Linked DNA regions of Homo sapiens: region 2 is linked to region 1. A link means that fine-mapping ties the variant in region 1 to the expression of a gene that starts in the linked region. Tissue or cell type: T cells. Region 1 holds a variant in brackets; the other region holds the start of a gene. All regions are shown on one strand. Distances are between the middles of the regions. Region 1 overlaps MME (membrane metalloendopeptidase). Region 2 holds the start of MME (membrane metalloendopeptidase).

Evidence for each region.
Region 2: it holds the start of MME, and the variant in region 1 is fine-mapped to the expression of MME in T cells (TOPMed, PIP above 0.99).

What each region holds. Positions count from the first base shown.
Region 1 is chr3:155,116,299-155,119,209 of GRCh38, forward strand. It overlaps MME (membrane metalloendopeptidase), which reads left to right. Exons shown (of 23, transcript NM_007289.4): 5 at 181-261; 6 at 366-461; 7 at 570-688; 8 at 2,448-2,513. Among named protein-coding and RNA genes, the nearest start is that of MME, 37 kb to the left of the region's middle. The variant T/C (reference allele first, on the strand shown) is at 1,137.
Region 2 is chr3:155,078,674-155,081,584 of GRCh38, forward strand. MME (membrane metalloendopeptidase) reads left to right here and starts at 1,646. Exons shown (of 23, transcript NM_007289.4): 1 at 1,646-1,793.

The DNA.
Region 1 (2,911 bases):
TTGGTTTTTCCTATAATGTTTTGGAACTGGGGGGAGGAAATGAATGTACCTCCAGAAAAGCAAGGTTTTTTTTTAACTGAACCCACTTTGCAAATGTTAATTACTGCAAATGAGCAATTATGTTTGCATAGTGCAAATGAGCAATTATGTTGATGCATTTTATTAAATGTCCTATTTCAGATGTCCTTCAAGAACCCAAAACTGAAGATATAGTAGCAGTGCAGAAAGCAAAAGCATTGTACAGGTCTTGTATAAATGAATGTAAGTGCTCTTCATTTGATTTCATTAGGAGTATATATATATATATATTGGTGCCAAACTATGCCTAGATTTCTAATTGAATTTATGTTTGTTGTTTCCAAAAGCTGCTATTGATAGCAGAGGTGGAGAACCTCTACTCAAACTGTTACCAGACATATATGGGTGGCCAGTAGCAACAGAAAACTGGGAGCAAAAATATGGTAAGGCAATTTTCCTACTAAAAAAGAAATTTCCATGTAAAATCTATGTTATAATATCATTAGTGAACTAAAGCTTCTAAAGATATATTTTATCTTTTATTGCTTTAGGTGCTTCTTGGACAGCTGAAAAAGCTATTGCACAACTGAATTCTAAATATGGGAAAAAAGTCCTTATTAATTTGTTTGTTGGCACTGATGATAAGAATTCTGTGAATCATGTAATTCATGTAAGTTTGTGTGTCAAATAACTAAAGTTACCTTTAAATTGTAATAAAACTTCCACATACATTGTTGTTATTGATATTTAGAAATAATGCTATTTTCAATTGAATTGAATAAGCAAGGAGGTAGTATATCCATGCTCTGTCCCTAATACCTGGAGTTCCAATTTTGAAAGTATTTTCTTAATGCTGTTTTCGACATTCACCCCTTGCTTCTGCTACCTCTGTTTTAGATACCTCTCCCTTCACAAAACAAATGATAAGAAGGGCTCCAGGCCCCTCCTATTCAGAAAAAGTTCCTAATTTCTTTGTATAGTACTTGAAAGGAGCATGCTTTCGTTTATAGAAGTAATGCAGGTCTAGAAACCAAAAAATAATAATTGCTTTCAAAAAGAACACAGAAAAGGGATTTTAAACATCATTTTTTTCCTCACTAAAGAGTATCTGTACTTTT[T/C]TCTCAACTAAAGGTAAATAAAATGCCTTTCTTTTAAAATGGATTTATTGTATTTTTACAAATGTAAACAATTTGATTTAGGTGTCACCTAAGACTAGATTAATGACTATGTTTGGAATGTACTGAAAAATATAAAGAGTTTTTCTTTCTTCCTTTTTTTTTTTGTTTTTTTTTTTTTTTGGTTTCCTGTGTAAGAAATTATACAAAAAATTGCAGGCTACTGAATCACCTAATCATATCTGTGTCACTATTGCATAAATCTTTATGGTCGTTTTTGTTAAAATCATGAAAGGAATTGAACCCAAATCTCCTGCAGTGGGCTCTCTCTCTTCTGAAACTTTCTCCTTGCAGGATCACCTTGAGGACCAGGGGGTGGGGAAGGATCAGGGCCCTTCATGTGGAGATATCTTCTGGCTCTTTCCATACCAGTTCTTTGGGTTATGTTTTCTTTTCTATTGGCCTAGGCTCTCCACAGCTGCTAGGATTCTCTCTTTAACCCAGAAATGCTCTGTTTGGCCTCCACACTCATGTTGCCATGCAGTGAGTAGGAAACAATCTTGCAAAGCTGCAGTATGCCCAGATAGCTCCCACTTGGGTATTAAACATGGACCAGACACGTTAGCGCAAAACTGAGTTTCCTCTTTCACACCCTTAACTGCTATCTGGGTCTACTGAGGTTCTTCTGAGCAGAGCAGCTTTGAGGAGAACCAAGGAGAAGTCGCCTCCATTCCCTTAGGGTAGAGAATCTTAAAAAACATTTTCTGGCACAAGTTACATTAGCTAAAAGATTCTGGAGTTACCTTAGAGGTTTTCCACTTCTCCCCTTCTCCCCATCCATCCAAATCAACTTGAAGAATATTAACCCACTCCCACCAATGAAAGGGGATCCCAACTAAGGGTGGAAGCAGATGAGAATGTTCCCAGGGGAGCACATTAGAATCTCAGGAAGCTGAGAAATCTGTGAATATGTAATTTAGAAATTTCCACGTCCTAGAATCTAACATGTTTTTGTTCACTTGCACCTTCTGCTCTGCATTAAAAATCCCTCCTAGTAAATCTTTTGTTCACTTTCTTTTGTTTTCCTTAAATATCTGCAGCACAGTCCTCCAGATTATCTAACTGCCCGTTAGTATAACACTTACAAGTAGTGTAGAAAGCATTTCCTAACTAGGTATTTATTGAGTGTCTGATGGTCACCCCATAAACAGCAAGAGTAGGATCTTTCACATACATAGATAGACATGCTTGTATTTTTCAAACTTTTCTATATTCACTGAATGATTTATTTTCTTTTATGTATATTTTTTATAGATTGACCAACCTCGACTTGGCCTCCCTTCTAGAGATTACTATGAATGCACTGGAATCTATAAAGAGGTAAAAAGAAAAAAAATAATCAAAACCAAACTACAAAATGATCTGGTGTAAACCTACAAGTAATGAAAAAGATAAAGCCAAATTAAATTTAGCCCTCTGATGTTTTTCATTCATGACAGGGACTTAAAATCACACATAATAGTGAGCTGTCTTTGATAGAATGAACATTCTCAATAGAATGAATGAAGGTATTTTACAAAACTAGGAAACTTGAAATTCCTTATTTGTATCTTGGTTTTTAGTATTTAAAACATATGATCGATTTTGAAAAGTTAATTTAAAATATTTTAATCCACCTGTAAACTGCATTATTTAAAAAATGAAAAGATTTATCATGGTCTAGGGTGGTGCTGGTGAGGACCAGAGGGTCAGTGAGAGATACACTCTGCAGCATCCTT
Region 2 (2,911 bases), 38 kb before region 1:
TGTGTGTGTGTGTGTGTGTAATTACCTGTGATTCAAAAGAGGAAAGGGATCAGTATTAAAGGTACTTGTACACTGGAAGCAAAAAAAAAAGGAAGTTTAGTTCCTCTGAGCTCCTTGGCAATTATAGCTGCTAAAGGTAGCTTTTACAAAGAAACTGCCTTTGTGCCTAAAGTATTTATTTCCTTGTTTGTATTTACCCCTTTGAGGAGGAATCGCTGTGTCTTGAGTGAAAGGGGTACGCTGCTTGCTTGCATTAAACTGTGAGGGTCCAGGCGCATTACGGCTGATTTCAGTAGGTAGAGCAGACACACTTTAGTTTATTTTTCTCTTTCTCACTCCCCACCCTCAACCTCCGATGTACACACGTTTTAAGATTCCCTGAAGTCAGGAGGTGGGAGCGGAGAGTTTCAGTTCAGATCTTGACATGAGAGTACTTCGACCAAGGAAAAGAAAGGGAAGAAAGAGGGAAGCGGGGTGGAGAAAGCAGGAGCAAGGAAGGAAAGAAGGAAACGGGGAGGGAGAGTAAGAAAAAAGAAAACGAAGGAGGGAGGGAGAGAGGACATTTAAATGAAGAAGGAAGGAAGCTTGGATTCAGGGAGGAAAGGGAGCGGGAAAGAGAGCGAAAGAAGAGCGTGAGAAGAGGCAAGCATTATAGTCTCCGGTCCACAGGGGAGAGATGGAGCCCCCTCAGGACTAGAGAATCCCGAAGAGCCCGTGTATTGTTTTCTTGAAAGCCCCGAAGCTAAGCAATTCTAAAAATGTTTAGCAAAGCCCTTTTGGGAATGGTGAGATGGGGGGTGGGGAGGATGGGACATTTTCATTGCCACCGCCCGCCCCCCGTCTCCCCGGCCCCCTCACATGAAGTGACTGGATTTGGGAGACCTAGCGGAAACCTTCAGGTCACCCAGGGAACTGCTCCTCTCTCTGGTCCTGCAGCGGCGAGGCGGGGTAGGGGGTGGGGGGGGTGGGCCGTGAGAGCGCCGAGACGCGCGGGGCGCGGAGATGTGCAAGTGGCGAAGCTTGACCGAGAGCAGGCTGGAGCAGCCGCCCAACTCCTGGCGCGGGATCTGCTGAGGGGTCACGGTGAGTCTCTGTGGGTGCGGGTCGGAGGGATGCCCAGGTGCCTCGTCGCCCCACGGCCCGGGCGGAGGCGGGTCCGGAACCTCCCCCAAGTCCGGCCTCAGCCTGGAGCCCGCGCGCCTTGGGCGGATGCACGGACTGAGAGGCGCTTGGCTGGGCTCTCAGCCCGCCACTGCCACCCGGCCCCGTGCGCTCATTGGTCGGGATGTGTCGGCTCAGCAGCCTCCAACTTCTCCCGAATCCCACTGGTGAGTCCCAGGAGAGCGAGCTGAGGGAGAAAGGTCCAAAGGGCGCGAGCGCCCAGGGCGCTGGGAGCCCGTGGGACGGGCACGGGGAGGGCAGAGCCAGCCGAGGGGAGCGGCTGCCGGGAGGTGCGCTGAGCAGGGTCCGCAGCTAAGGTCCAGCGCGATCCGAGCGCCCAGGACCCTGCGGCCGTGGAGGAGGCGTGCCCTGGGAAGGAGCCGCTACTGGGACCTGAAGAGTGAGGGGAGGGAGAGGGGCCCAGAGGGTGACCTGGAGGAGGGCTCTGGAAGTCACGTCAGGTTGGCTCTTCAGGTTCATTTCCATAGTTCCCTGCGGCCTCTGCCTTGGGGAGTTATGTTTTGTTACCGAGATCCGCGCTACCAGATTGCACCGGGGCTGATTTGGGGGCTGGGAATTTGCCATTCTGCTGTACAGACACTGATTTTTTTTTCTTCTTTTTAAAAAGCAAGGTTTGTTTTCATTTTGGTTTCTGTCGGATTTTCTCATTTGTAACTCACTTTTCTATTTTTACTTTTCTTAACCGGAAGATCTTTTCATTATCCCACCTCTTCATCTTGCTTTTAACCTGATTTCCTATTATATAATTAATGCTTAAATCTCACAAGGGTTGGTCGGTGCGGGGCTGGTGTGTCCTTTTGTAGATGAAAGTTTAAGACCTCTTAACTGGTTTCAGTCTATTTGTCTGGTTTCAAAATAAGGGTAATTGCAACCAAATATCCCTCTTTAGCTTCTCGATCAAGTCGATTCCTCCCCCATATATGATTCAAATGGCAATTTTATTAAACTGAAAACTAGTACCTGACTTGCAGCGTCAGCATTTGGAAAGTGCTTGTCGGCAAATCGACTGTATGAAGGCGTGTAGCTTCATCCCCTGCCATTTTTGTGGGTTCTAGCACTTTAAAAAATTGTCTGGTAATTTCTTGGACTTAACCCTGTGTCTTTGGTTGTAGAGCAGCACTAACCAGGGGAGTAATATGGTTGGCACTTCGTGTCCAGAACTCCGTATTTCAGGCTGGGAAACACCTAATTAATGTCTGGGAAACAAGAAGATGATTTATCCTGAGTACCTCTGTCCTCAGCTTCTGCAGACACAGTTTAAATATGGAAACTGTTTCTCCTTCTTCCTGTGCCTCAGTTTCCATAGAACAAACTGTAATTGCATAGCACAGCTTCAGGAACCTGCAGATATAAGTTAATGTTATAATGTGCAGTGAAGATGAAAACTGCTTAGCTAAGTCTAAGTCTGTAAGTCAATGAGATTTCCTTTTTAACAAATCAGTTATCCAGGTTTCCTGCTTTGACTGTCTGATATAGTAATGCTTATGCTCAACTGGTATAAGAATTGCTGCTTTACATTGCTTTGAAATTAAGCTTACACTTAAAATAGTAATTTATTCTGTTGGTAATATTGTCGAGCTGAAGTTTGCAGGTTCTTGTTATCTTAGACCTCCTAATTCTCTATTCTCGTCTGTGGCAGTGTCCACTTTTCCGTTTAAACTTTTTATTTAACACATCTTCAGTTGAAGTGAAATATTTTAAGAATACAGGTATGTTTTTGCGTACCCTG